Linked DNA regions of Homo sapiens: region 1 is reported to be linked to region 2. The links are microRNA targets in miRTarBase. Many come from high-throughput screens and were not tested one by one. Region 2 holds a microRNA gene; the other region holds the end of a gene's coding sequence.

The links. Region 2 holds the annotated microRNA hsa-miR-3973 (ACAAAGUACAGCAUUAGCCUUAG, at 4,838-4,860, shown strand). A microRNA usually pairs through its seed, bases 2 to 8, with sites in the 3' UTR of a target mRNA and lowers its output. Matches are read on the target gene's strand: a 7mer-m8 pairs with bases 2 to 8, a 7mer-A1 pairs with bases 2 to 7 and ends in A, and an 8mer does both.
Region 1: miRTarBase lists RIMKLB as a target of hsa-miR-3973. Seed matches in the 3' UTR shown: 7mer-A1 at 3,317-3,323, 7mer-A1 at 2,568-2,574 and 7mer-A1 at 2,542-2,548.

What each region holds. Positions count from the first base shown.
Region 1 is chr12:8,772,406-8,779,405 of GRCh38, reverse strand. RIMKLB (ribosomal modification protein rimK like family member B) reads right to left here. Exons shown (of 6, transcript NM_001297776.2): 6 at 2,215-6,085. The coding sequence ends at 5,622. It overlaps A2ML1-AS1 (A2ML1 antisense RNA 1), which reads left to right. Exons shown (of 2, transcript NR_046715.1): 2 at 3,022-3,195. Among named protein-coding and RNA genes, the nearest start is that of LINC02972, 12 kb to the left of the region's middle. RefSeq lists enhancers at 6,298-6,797, 6,798-7,000.
Region 2 is chr11:36,005,344-36,012,610 of GRCh38, forward strand. MIR3973 (microRNA 3973) reads left to right here and starts at 4,755; the gene lies at 4,755-4,861. All of the region lies in intron 1 of LDLRAD3 (low density lipoprotein receptor class A domain containing 3), which reads left to right.

The DNA.
Region 1 (7,000 bases), not on the chromosome of region 2:
CTTCTGGGAACTGAGGCACAGGGATGTCTGTCTGACTGAAACCTAAAACAACAACAGTTCACCCCACCCCTCATGTTCCCAAACCCCACAATAGCAGCCAGGTATATATGCTATATAAGGCTCACCTAATAAGTTTGAATATGGTAAAATCTAAAAGCAAGATCATTCTTAACAAGTCAGTGGTATTCAAACAGGCAGCTGACTGGAGGTTGTTTAACTCTCCATGCCTTATACAATCACATAGTCTGTATGCTCTAATGTTAGCCACTCTTGCTGAGTACAAGGCTCTCCTGAATGAGCCTTTTTTTATTTTTTAGTATACATCACAAATTCTTGCATGAGTGCAGCTGGAAGTAAATTCCAATTCAAATTCCCTCTGTTAGTAAATTCCAATTCAACAGATAAATATTTTTGTCTTAAGATGCTTAAAGGGAATGACTGTCCTTATAAGAGTCAACTGAAGCACAGAACAGGTTAATCACTTATCACATGTCTTCCTTCAGCTACAAGAAATGGCATTACACGCCAAGAATTCCTATTCACTAACTAGTGACTTGCTGGATGTACAGCCTCTTTGGATAGTACGTCCAAAGCCACAGGATGAAATTATGCAGAAGTCTATCTTGAAAAGGTCCTGATTACTTTCACTAAAATTCTACCTATTAGAAAGATGACAATATCCCAAAATAATAAAAGCTCAGAACTAAAACTTTAGGAAGTATAGGAGAAAGGAAGAATGGGTAGGTAGACTGGGGTAAAGACGGAGGAGAGGATAGTTTAGTTTATTACCTAACAGAAAGGCTATTAAAATGGACGAGTTGTAGTCCTATCCCTGACATTTTATGTCCTTGGTTAATGTGCTTAGCCATCTTGTGCTTCAGAAATGTCCTCCTATCTGTTCAAACCTGTAATTTTTGAAGGTTTAAACCATGATTTTCTGATAATCTCAAACTGCTCACATCTCCTTGTTAGAACTAGTATCTTAGAAATGCTAAAACGATTAGTTCTGAAATCACATTGCTCCTAAAAGAACTAAATTTTTTTGTATTATCTTCGTCTTACTATTCCCTTTCACTTTTATAAAGTCACAGAGAGAAGCACTAAGGTAAAATGAATGCTATGTTGAGTTTTTACCATATATATAACCTAGAGCCTAATTTTACCTTTCAAAACTCTAGTTTTCCATACCTGTCAACTCCTAATTGATGTCTTTATACTGTGAGCTCACTGTGTATTCGGAACACCAACCCCTGAAAAAGCTTAAGCCAGAGTAGCACAATGGAAGAAACAAACAAACCCAAAACAAAAACAAAGCCAAAAAATTCACACTCTGAAATACTTAATTATAGACATATATGCAAGAAATGGAGTCATCTAAATGGCTAAACAAAATTCCCAAGTCTTGAGTATATCATAACCAAGTCAAACTTTACCCCCAAAAGCTCTTCTTTAATCATATTATTTGCTAGATACATTTATGCATTATTTTTAAGTGAGAATTATGACAAACCCATGGTTACTTTTTAAAGTACGTAAAGAAAGGAAGTTTTAAAAAAAGAAAGTTAGCCTAGTGATGGAAAGAAAGGAGAAAGAGTTAAATTACCTGTAGGCAGACTGGGGCTGTGCCTGAATCCAAACCGGTGCATTTACCATTCATTATACAGCTGCATTATTGGGGGAAGGGGAGTTTAGAAGGGCACTGACCCCGAAAGTTCTCAATACTTCTCACTCATCATCAGGAAGGGGGAAGAAGGAAAGTTTTTTCTCTGGGTATTTTTTTGTTTGTTTGTATTTGTTTTTTTGGCTCCTGAAAAGGCTGGTAAAGAACAGTAACAGTGCAAGCAGTTAGAATATTTCTTTAAAAACAATGTAAAAAATGCAAAACATTAAGGATCTTCAAAGGCCAAACTTTCATTAATATAGAAAGAATTTTCACTAGAGTTAGGCAGCCACCCCAAAACAGCATGGCAAAATGGCATTGGTATAAAGGAAATAAAATACCACACAAAAATCCAAAACAAAACTAAAAACATTTCAAATTAAACCTGGAAGACTAGAAGATTCCAACAGCAGATTTCTGTCCACTACTGAAACATTCCAAAATCCAAGCTCCAAAGGTGCCTAAATGTATTTTAAATGAAACTTTGTTTTGTTTTTTTAAGAAGAAAAAAAAAAAAAAAAAAAAAAAAAGAAAGCAAGCAAGCAGTCAGTGAACCTGGTTATAAATCCTGCAATATATTACATTTTTTAAAATCCTAGTACAACAAAAACAAATCTTAAATAAAATTGAACAAACAAACAAATAAAAACAGTAGCAGCAGTGGTTACCTGTCTGAGCACCTACATTTTCTTAGGAGGGGATCGTGTCTCACCAGCCAAATAGCCCATAAACCTTCTCAAAAAAAGTGAGCCAGGAGAAAAGTATAACACAAGATTTGATTTCACAATGTCTCTAAGCCCCACAAGCCCCAAACTGGGGATTCACTGAATGAAACAAATTTGCTTCTCCATTGCTTTCTTCTTGAGAAAAAGAGATGATTTTCAAAGTCAATGCCTTCAATATGTTCTCAAAGTCTGATAATGTGCTTGATGAATGCCAAGTCTCTTGTTGGGTTTTTCTACTGTTCCAGGGTAGTTTTCTTATTGGTAACATATACAGGAAGATTTCAATGTTCATTGGAGAAAAGCCAGCAGAAATGACCAATCAATTATAGGCACCAAAAAAGAAAAAAACTATTAAAAATTTTAAATAGAATAGTTCATACTTGTATGTTTAGATATATAAAGTCCAGTTTTCATCATGGGTGACATAAAAACAATATCAGAAATAATCATTTTTGAAATACAATTTAGAATTACAATTTTAACAATATACAAAAATTTTACAATTCAGATTTTATCATTACACATATTTGATATATACATTCTCTCTCATAATAGCAATGAAGATTATACAAAAGTTATTAAACAATTATGAAAATAAGTTTAACCTAAATATCTGCTGCTGTTTGTTTCCTTAAGGTACTTCCAGAATGATTTGCTCTTATTCTCTACCTCAATCTTGAAGGAATTCAAGAAGATATCCATGTTTTTAAAATCTAAGATAACTACTGCTCTTTTCATTCTAACATGTGAGTGTACGTTTTAATATCATGTGAATGCATAATAGTGAATAAAGCTAATGAACTAATTTCACATATTTCCTATAATATAGTTGGTTAATTTGGTATAAGTTAAGAAAAGACTAACTACATTTTTCCTGATGCCTTACCCCACCAACACAAACATGAACTACATACTTGTGATATGTAACTATTCAAAGTGTATGTGTCATAATACACATGGCAACCAGATGGTCTCTATATGAACATATGAATGATAATTTAATTAAGCAGTTCTTTCTTCCTCATTTATTTCTCTATACCAAATAGTATGCATCCTCCACAGTATGGTCATTCAGCGAAAGAAGTACCAAGTATTTCTTTCTGTTAATGAGTCAGAGGTATTAATATATGTATGTGAGTCCCCCATTTACCCTGCGCAAGATAAGTTCTTTTAAATGCAATTAGAATATCCTAAGATAAATTACAAACTCCTCTTATGTATCCTTTTCTCTGAGGTGAAATGAGACACTGCACAGATGAGAGGTACTATTCTATTCATCAACAATCAACCTTTCACTCAATTTTAATATTATTTAATTCTATGGAAAAAACAAATTTTATTACATTCCTTTTTAAAACGGGGGAAAAACTGTACAAGTAAGCATGATCAAACCTCTGTTATAGCTGGTTAATACTGATCTTTTATTATTGCCTCGAAGTCTCTCTAGTAGTGTCCAAGAAATTATGTTTAAGGTCCATCTGAAGGAAAATAGCACTGGAGAGGCAAGAAAGGGCTTGGGTAAAAGCTTCAGAGGATTCGTAGGGAGATGGAAAACTTGCTGTTTAAAAAATTACGTTGGGCTCTGCAGCATCTCCATTTCTTAACATACCATCCAAACCCATCAATGGGATTAGTTTTACCCATGTTTTAAAGGCTCATATTATATGCAGTTTGGGGGCTTTTATAAATTCTGCAAGTAAAGGAATATAAAGAGTGGACAGTATTGAAGGCTTAAGAGTAGGGCTATAAGAGACTCAATACTACTAAATAAGTCCCCAAACAAAAACATCCAACCCACCCCCAATCCCAAATCCTATATGTAAAAAGAGAAAATGCATAGCCAGAAGCATTAAAGAAAAGCATGTAGCCTTGAATAAACTGTACACTGAACAGGCTAGAAACAAAAGGAAAAAAACAAACAACGTACATATACACAAAAAGGCCTAAAAAAGCATCTACTCACCCTATGTTTTAAGGTGAATACCTCTACCCCAGTGGAGTCTACTTATGAAAACAACTCATCTGTTTTTTAAAGTCAAAAACTCTGTTTCCCATCATGCTCCATTTTCTAAATTATCCTTTTTGATTAGTTGATGGAAACAAAAAGCAAAACACATACACATGCATGCGTGCACACACATACACATATACTCCCTCGTAAAATGTGAAAAATGCAAATATATAACGCTGGCATTCGAAATCACTTCAGCTTTATACTTAGAACTCATAGGCTCTTGATTTGCCCCCAAAAATATTTTTCCTTGTCCTTATTTAAATGCCCAACTACCAAAACAAAAAGGGAAAAAATAAAAGGCTTTAAATGTACATGTTTCAAGTCAGTGTCTTGTTAACAAAAAAGGTAGCATTTTCTTCACTTTGGCCATTGTTAAAGATGCAGGCATAGAGCAGGAAATGTTAGACTAGCATGTATTAAAAAAAAAAAAAAAAGCAACATTAACAGAGCACATCTTTCAAAAAAGACTAAAACACTAACAAATACAAGTGAATGCACATATTTTAAACTAGTGTAATTTTATCTACATTGAATTAATGTTATTTTGTATACCGGACATTGCAATACTGTTCATTTCCATTTCATCATGCAAACATGCCAATTTTGTCATTAAGAAGCCTTTATTGGGTTATATTCAATTTGACCTCCCACCAAATTAAGCGGGAAAAAACAAAAAAATAAGAAATCCCAGTAAAAGAGCCCCTCAAGATTTCATAAACTACAAACTAAAGCTGCTAGTTAATAAGGAAATGGCAGAATTTTCAGAGCTGTATAATACAAAAATTCCTGTAATTTATGCAGATGTTTTCCTCACTGATGACAAATCTTCCAACACAATGTGAAGTTATGCTACTTGGATATTTGTAGCAAAACCATTTTTTTTTGTACAAAAACAAAAGCAAGGGACCATGAAAAAAAAAAAGTATTTGTTCCTCATGGCCTATGAGCATACACATTTTTTAGCAATTTAAAAGGGTAACTATGAGAGCCTGACATTTTTCTATACCCCACCTATTCTGCCTCTCTATTTGTAGGATTTGTAAATGAAAGTAACATCTTACTAGCAGAGGTCTCATCTATCTCCCACTCTCTCCAACTAATCCTACTAATTTTCTCTCATCTTCCTGAGCATCCTCCATGAACAGCATTGCAAGTTGGTTTTAAAAATAGAAAAGAAGAAAGAAAGTTTTACAAGGGTTTTGTTGGTTAATTACCAGTGGAGTCAGTCCACCAGTAGTTTGATTTCATTGGCTAGCAGCTGGTTCATGTTGAACAGGCCCCCTGGGAGCTTGGTGAGCAGCTCTCGCTCCGTGCTTTCAGGGTCGCTGTCAACAGAGCTGGAACTTGCACTCATGTTGTCAACAGCAGTGCTGGCTGGGGGACCCAGCTCCGGCTCACTAGTCTCACTGGCAGTGGACACCACGGAGAGCAGGGACATACGCCGGGTGAGCCGGCCAGAGGGTAGAAGGGAGGCGGCATAGTCTGCTATGATACCAGCTACATCTAGATTACAAGCCTTATCAAAGGCGATGAAACCTACATTTGCATTGGCCTCACAGACGCAGAAGGAGCCGTCATCTTTCATCAGCAGATCAATGCCACACACATCCATCCCCAGGATATTAGACACCTGGATAGCTAGCTGCTTCCCTTGTTCACTCAATGAGCACATCATCCCCACACCACCTGGCAAAAGAAACAAGACAGGAAATTAACAAAATCATAAACTTTTGAAATAAAATTAAAGTTGGCCTCCAAGGCTAAGCCTTTCTTCTAAATTAATAGTGAAAACAAAGGCGTTATTCTAGTGTAAAATTAGGACTTCTAAGTCTAGATTTCCTTAATCAGGAATCCTCTCCCTATCCAGTCTCCCAGGAATTGATGATTTCGTAAGTTGTCAATATTTTTTCCAAGTCTATCTTACTTGCAATAATATAAACCAAGTATAAGGAAGTTCAGCATAAATACAATTAGACCACTTGATAGATGGCAAAAGTATTATTGGTTTTTGATTTATAAAAATAATAAAAATGCATAACAGAACGGAGGATGGGGTGAAATCTGGGAAGGTGGTGACGTGAACACAGTTTTCTTCCTCTATAGCCCCCACTTCAATCTAGCTGTCATTCCTAAACCAAAAGGCTTCTGGGTTATAAGGTAGCTGGCTGGATATAAGTGAAGTCTTTGGCCTTGCCAAAAGGAAGGAAGAGAAAGGAAGTAGAACTTGATTTTCTCACTTGGAGATCAGCTTCACGAAGCTCTGAACTAAGGACAGGAAAGTAAAGAACTTTAAGAAGAGCTTGGTTCCAAGAGCTCTGTGTATCCATAGGAGTGAGGATGACATGTGAGTTTACCCGTAGTGTTTGACCCCAAAAAGGCCAGAAGTAGCTGGACAGGTGAGGTGGATCCTCCCTACCACTGAGGCTGTAGGAATAAAGAAGTCAAGGAAACAAAAGGCTTCTTTTAGGTACCTCCGTAGAAGACTGGCCCGTGAATTAAATGATTCTGCTTCACAGCACTTCTAAGACTGAGGCCATGTAGAATACTACAAATAACCCAAGCTGAGTGAGCCCTGATGTAAAAACAAAACAATAATAATCC
Region 2 (7,267 bases):
TCAAAGTTCCACAGATCTCTAGGGCAGGGGCAGAATGCCACCAGTCTCTTTGCTAAAGCATAGCAAGAGTGACCTTTACTCCCGTTCCCGATAAGTTCCTCATCTCCATCTGAGACCACCTCAGCCCGGACTTCATTGTCCATGTCACGATCAGCATTTTGGTCAAGAACATTCAACAAGTCTCTAGGAAGTTCCAAACTTTCCCACATCTTCCTGCCTTCTTCTGAGCTCTCCAAACTATTCCAACCTCTGCCCATTACCCAGTTCGAAAGTCACTTTCACATGTTCTGGTATCTTTACAGCAGTGCCCCACTCCTGGTACCCATTTTCTGTATTAGTTCATTTTCACACTCCTATAAAGAACTGCCTTAGACTGGGTAATTTCTGAAGAAAAAAGGGCTAATTTACTCTCAATTCTGCAAGCTTAACAAGAAGCATGACTAGGAGGCCTCAGGCAACTTAAAATCATGGCAGAAGGTGAAGGGAAAGCAAGGACCTTCTTCACATGGTGGCAGGAGAGAGAGAGCGCGAAGGGGGAAGTGCCACACATGTTTAAAGCATCAGATCTCATGAGAACTTGCTATCACGAGAGCAGCAAGGGGGAAATCCATCCCCATGATTCAGTCACCTCCTACTAGGCCCCTCCTCCAATTCGACATGAGATTTGGACAGAGACACAAATCCAAACCATATCTAAGATGTTGAGCAACTTAAACAAAAACTGCGCCCTTGCCCACTATAGATGCCCAGTCGTTCCTCATCCCACAGGAAATATGGGCTCAGAGACCTCAATGGTGGGTAGCATCATTGAGTGTTTTCCTCTAGCCCCAGCAGTTTGATTCTGTTTAATCCTTCTTTTCTCCCTAAATTATGTGGGCGCCATAGTTACCAGAGTTACAATTAATTCACAGATTAGGGGAAAAGCCATGACTTTAGGAAGCATATGGATGAATTAAAATGTTGGCTTTTCTACTCATTAGCTGGATGCTCTTGACTTTTCCCAGCCTTGGTTTCCTTAAGGGTGCAGTCAAGGGGATGAGATGCCTCCCAGAGTTGTTCTGAGAATTAAATGGAACAGGTTTAGTGAAAGCGCTGAGCTGTGTGCCAGGCATATACGAAGTAGGAGTTACTGAATGGATGTGTGATGGTGGTTCACCCTCCCCGAATCCCAGACTGGGCACCTTGGGCTCGCTGCCTCTCCATAGCTGCTGCAGTTCCTAGTGTTTAAGAGTGTGGGTTTTAGAGTCATACAGACCTGGGTTCCATGACTGTCTGATTATGTTTCCTTGGGCAAGTTTTTGAACTCTCTGAGCCTTAGTTTTCTCCTCTGTAAACTTAGCACTGGTTCCTTCCTCCATCACATGGTGGTGGTGAACAATCCCATGACAATGCAGGATGTAGATATTTAGCTCAGTGCCTGGTGCATAAATAGTGCTCCACTGTTATCACACAGGGTGAAATTGCCTTATGGGCTCAAGCCCGTGGATTCAGACCTTACTTCTGGCTGCATCTGCCTTGCTCCAGATGTCGACTATTCCCCTTCCTGCAGGGGAAGTCGCACTTTTAGCCCAAGAGGGAGGAAATGGCTGCTCCATTGCCACCATCCTGCTCAAGGTTCAGCCCTACTGGTCCCATATTTGTGCCTTGACCTGGGTTACTCTGTCCCCAGCCCCACACAGTGGGCCTCAGTGACTCTCTCAGTCTGTGGGGGAGAAAGTTAACAATTCTGATTCCAAGAGCTTTGGAAAAATCCCACCTCCTCCAGCAGTCATTATTTATTTATACTTTAATCTTCATGGATTACTCTGAGTTGCTCATAGCTTTCCAGAAAGCTCCGAGTAAGTGGAAGTCGTACATGCACCCGAAGTAATTAATGCACTTTCTACTAGTGAGAGAAGGTGTAATTCGCAGGAATGTGTGTCAAGACCCACCCTGCTAAATTTATACCCTGTAATTTGCAATGTTTGTTGGCACTGAATTGGCAGGTTGGTGAGTCTAGCCTACCTGCTTTGCAATTATATCTACTGGCCGGTATTGTAGGATTGAGTAACTGGAGAGACTCATCACTTAAGTAAATTAGAACCTGCTTCTGGGACCCATCTGAGATCACCCTCTGGTAGGGAGGCTGGTTAATCATGTTTCCTTTGTGCATACTGGAGAGAATCTGATAAAGGTGAGGGAGGGAAGAGGCGAAGGCAGTCCTGAGGCTTGCCTGAGTGTGGAAGGACCGGCGGCTTGGGAAGGCATTTCTTCAGCAGTCCTCCTCAGCCAGCACTCTGGAAAAGGAAAACACAAAACTGTTAGAACAGAAATGGTCTTATGGTCCATTTTATGAGCTGCATCAGCCCTAATAATCAGCTCTGGGGGAGACTCGTGTTAGTTTTTAAAACTAGAAGTCACTTTGCAGCCTCTGCAGACCAGTGATTTTAGTACAGTCCTCGTAAATTTTCTTTCTGAGGGGAAACTGGCAGGAGAATCCGACAGGCTGCAATGTAAGCTTGTAGTTCAGGTGCTGGGAAGCGGGTGTGAGATGGTTGGATTTTTCCATGGCTATGTTTTTGTGGCCAGATAAAAGAATTGAGTGAAGATGAAATAAAGTTTAGGCAGACCCAACCCTTGTAGAAATCCCAGACACTCAGTTTACTCCACGTGACCTCTGGTGGACTGTTCAGCCTACCTGAGTGGCCTCTTCTCCTTTGTGGAAGGGAGCAAATGAGTCTTTTGATTAAAGTTGTTATAAATATTAGATGCTTGTAAAGGCTCCGGCACATGGAGAATACCCAATAAATGGTAGTTATCATTAGGGCCATTTTTATGTGAGGAGGGCATATTATTTGTCATTTGTAAAGAACACTTGGGGACGCAAACCAGGCAGAATGGGTAAACAAATTGGGTAAAATCCTATATTTTTTCAAAAAGCCATTTGAATGTGCACCTGAGGCCTGAAAATGTGGATTAGATACAGATTGTGCTTTGATGAGAGTGCAGTTGTACCTCAAGGAAAGCCTCCTCCATCCCAACTCCAGGGTTCATGGAAGACGGTAGCATTCCTATTTGGTGTTGGGACCTCTTCAAGGCTTGAGAAAATATAAGGAGGAATTTAGAATCTGGGGAGAGGGATCCTTTCTCCCAGGAGTTTGTTGGGGTCAAGAAATGTAACTTTAAATGCTCCTATTGCAAGATTGGGTTTGTCGATACACAGGCAATTCTTTGGGTGTTCCAGTCCTATGGGGTGAGAAAGAATGAATATATATATTTTTTATCTGTCTCTGTATGTGCCTGTGTCAATTCCTAGTAAATATTTATGGGCTGGCAAGTTGCAACTGGGAAAGGCCCATGTTTAACTGGCTAAATATTAATAAGCATATTCAAGAGAACTGAGGTCTTTGTTTTGTCTTCTTAAGAAATGAATCCGCTCTTATTCACTGTGTATTCACAGGAAACTGTGCTGTTCAGGGAAGAAGTACTGCCTTGTTTTCCTTGTAGGCTTTCCAGCTTGGATTTCGATTTCCACTGAGGCCTTATTTTTAAAAACATGTTTTTACAGCAGCATTACAACTGTGGAGATTATAGCAGTCTCCTACAGCTTTGGTTATGAAAATAATATATATCGTCTTTTTATTCCCTTTAATTGACCATTCTCTTACCTTCCTTTGTCTCCACATGGAGACACGGCTAGATATCTCCCTCCTTTGTATTTTTTTCTCTCTTCTCCAACACTCTGAGATCAAGGCCCAAGTAAGTACACACCTTCACTTTTATCCTGGTTTCCTGGTATCCAGTGAAATGGATTTCATACTGCTGAAATGTCCATCCTTTCCCCAACTCATATCTGTGGCTACTTCTACCTTTCTCTTCCTGGAACTTTCCTGAAGAGTTAATTTCCTTATCTTGGCAGTGCTTCCCAGGAAACTCCCTTTTTTGCTCTGAGACAGACCTTTTAATAGTATTAAATCAAATGCTTCCAAACCATAGTTTAGACCCCCTGCTCTGGGAGCAGTCATCATAGGCAGGGCTTTGACGAACTCCCTTTGCAGGATCTGGTTGTCTATCCTGGTCACCTGGATTTACAAAAGGCTAAGAATAGCATTGGAGAAGACAGTCCTGTATTATTTTTCACTTACATACCTGAAAAATTAGTTTCTATCCGAATAGAAATGGATTTCCACCCAGCCAGAGGTTTATGCTGAAAGATGTAAAGTGGAATTGGGAAGATAAAATTAGACTCTTTAGGAAAGAATGGGTTTCCCACCTCCACTATAATCACTGTCATGCACCCTTATAAGTGGATTGGGTGTTGCTGAAATGCAAATGCCATTCGTTCTGTTGCTGATTTGCTTACCGAAAGTTGCAGAAATTCAATCCATGCAGAAAATTCTATGAGTCACTTCATTTCCTGCAACATTTTTTTTCCATTATTCATATTATGGAAAAGAGCACATCAAAAAGGCAGGTCTGCAAATAACACAGTTTTCAAAAAGATTGTTTTATTTTTCTTACGAAGAAGTTTTCCAGAAATCTGTAACCAGTATCAGGAATTCTCCAGCTTTGTATACATAGCCACTCATGATCGGATTCTACTCCTTGCTTTTATCTTGCTTGTTGTCTTTGGGGTTTTGAAGATTTGAAGGAAACTGGTCAGAATTATTGACAAAGTGCTCAGGCCTCAAAAAATACTATCAGAATAAGGGACTGAAGAGTATAACCTACTTTATTGTGTTTGTGTCTGGAGTATCTGAGTGTTAAAATTTGAAGCCCAGGGTAGCTCTCTGTATTGCTTGTTACATTTTAGGATTGCTTGCCCCTTGCTCCAATGGTGCAGGCAGAAGAAATGCAAACAAAGTACAGCATTAGCCTTAGCAAAACATATAACTAGGACAGTGGATCTGCTGCCAAAAATACCATCTGCTGTTTTCCAAAGCCAGAGATGGATGACTTGAGTTGTCTCTGCCTTCAGCAAATAGTCAAGAGACTAAATAGATTTATTTACTTTAAGTTTGCCCAGCCCTTCATAATATTTCTTATTAGAAGAAGAATATATTTTGGAATTAGTGAAGATAGACCCAACTCTTTGATTCCCAAATGGATGCCTAAAAATTTCCAATAGCTTCCAAATTGGATTTTCTTATTACTTTTCTTTCCCATCTCTTTCTACATAGGGCTGCCAGGTTAACCTACCTGAAGCATTACTCATCTCATGTCACTCCCTTGCTCAAAAACGGATGATGTTGGCTTCTCCTTGTGTATAAAGTTAAGTCCAAGTTCTATAGTCTGGCACTTAAAGCTTTTCCCACCCTTATATCCTCCTCTCCATGACCATTTGCTTTCATGCCTCCATTTAGCTCAGCGTTTCATTTGGAATAGAGGTCTGCATCATACCCAACCTGCAAAGCAGCCTGGGTGGAAATTATTCCATGCAGCATTCCATGATGCTTCCCCTGGAATAAATTTCCCCCTCCTTAGAAATTCTTTTTTTTTTGAAATGGAGTTTCGCTCTTGTTGCCTAGGCTGGAGTGTGATGGTGCGATCTTGGCTCACTGCAACCTCTGCTTCCGAGATTCAAGCAATTCTCCTGCCTCAGCCTCCTGAGTAGCTGGGATTGCAGGCATGCACCACCAAGCCTGGCTGATTTTGTATTTTTAGTAGAGGTGGGGTTTCTCCATGTTGGTCAGGCTGGTCTCGAACTCCTAACCTCAGGTGATCTGCCTGCCTTGGCCTCCCAAAGTGCTGCAATTACAGGCGTGAGCCACCGCACCCAGCCCCTCTTAGTAATTCTTACATTCCATTTCTTACTTTCTTCTGTGGCATTTATGACTTCCAACTTTTATAATTATAAAATAATTTTAATTTTATAGCTCTTTAGGTGCACACTTCTTCTCTCCTGCTCAATAGTAGGTTTTTGATGTGCTCAAGTCTTGTATTCCCTGCAACCTTGAGTATAGTAGGTGTCTAATGCTTTCTTTTTGGGTAAATGAATGAATCAGTTAGTTGAATGAGTGCTTACTACAAAACAGAGCATGCGATAGGCAGCGGGTATCTATTAAATATAAATATCTTGTTCCATGGCCCCAATCAGTGAAAAATGTCATTGTTGAGGAGGTCACTGGCTAGGAATTTTAGAAGTGAGAACACAGTGGTCATTGCTGTAGTCTAGATTTGGGTGGTCCTTCAACACTTCAGATGTATAATTAATTTGGGATTTGTGTATCAAAAGTTCTGCTACCTCAATAATACTGATATTATAACCTTTGAAAGGGTGGAGAGAGAACCATAAGCAATTGTAACTTATGTATTCTTCATCAACAGGTCTATTCTGCTATTTTGGGGACATAGCAGAGGTCAGTTGGAAAGAGATTTAGCGAGCCAGTTAGAGCCTGATTTGCATGCTAGTTCTCATTACCTGGCTTGTCATCTTGAACCTCAATTTCCTCATCTGGAAAATGGGTATAAGTAGCTACCCGATGCAGTGTGGATTAAATGACAAACAGAAAGCACCAGTGCAGGCTCTAACACATAGTGGGTGCTCCACGAATGCAGGCATCACGTCTAAGGGAAGTCTGAGTGGCGGCCTGTCACCAGCATCATGACTGTTTGACTTCATAGTCTAACTGCATGACTGTGGGGAAGAAGGCAGGTACGGTCATAGAAGTTTGCTATTTTCTTCGAAAGTGATTTCTTACTATTGATTTTAATCAGTTTAGATTGTTGTTCTTCTATATTCTAAAGTCTCTAGGGGTTAGGAATTCTGATTAATATATTCTATAGTAGTCTCCCCTTATCTTCGGGGGGTACATTTCAAGACCCCCAGTGGATGCCTGAAACCGAATATAGTACCAAATTGCTGTCAACTGAAACCTATTTCTGTCCATGTGTTCCACCTACAAATTTAATGCCTTTCCATCCTAACTAAGCACTTATCACACACTCTGGCTATAACTTTTGCAGTTTGAGGTGTGACAGCAAAACTAGCACAAATTCTTTTTCCTTCTTCACAATTTCACAGATAGAAAATTTTTTCTCACTGTACATCTTAGCAACCTCAGCATAAGTTTTTTTTCCTTTCCTTACTAAGTCGAGAACTTTCACCTTTTCACTTAAAGGAAGCACTTTACAGCTTCTCTTTGGCATACCTGAATTACCAGCATCACTCTTCTTGTGCTTTGGGGCCATTATTAAATAAAATTGGTTACTGAAACACAAACATTGCAAGACAGAGGCAGTTGATCTGATAACTGAGACCGTTCTTAAGTGACTAATAGGCAGATAG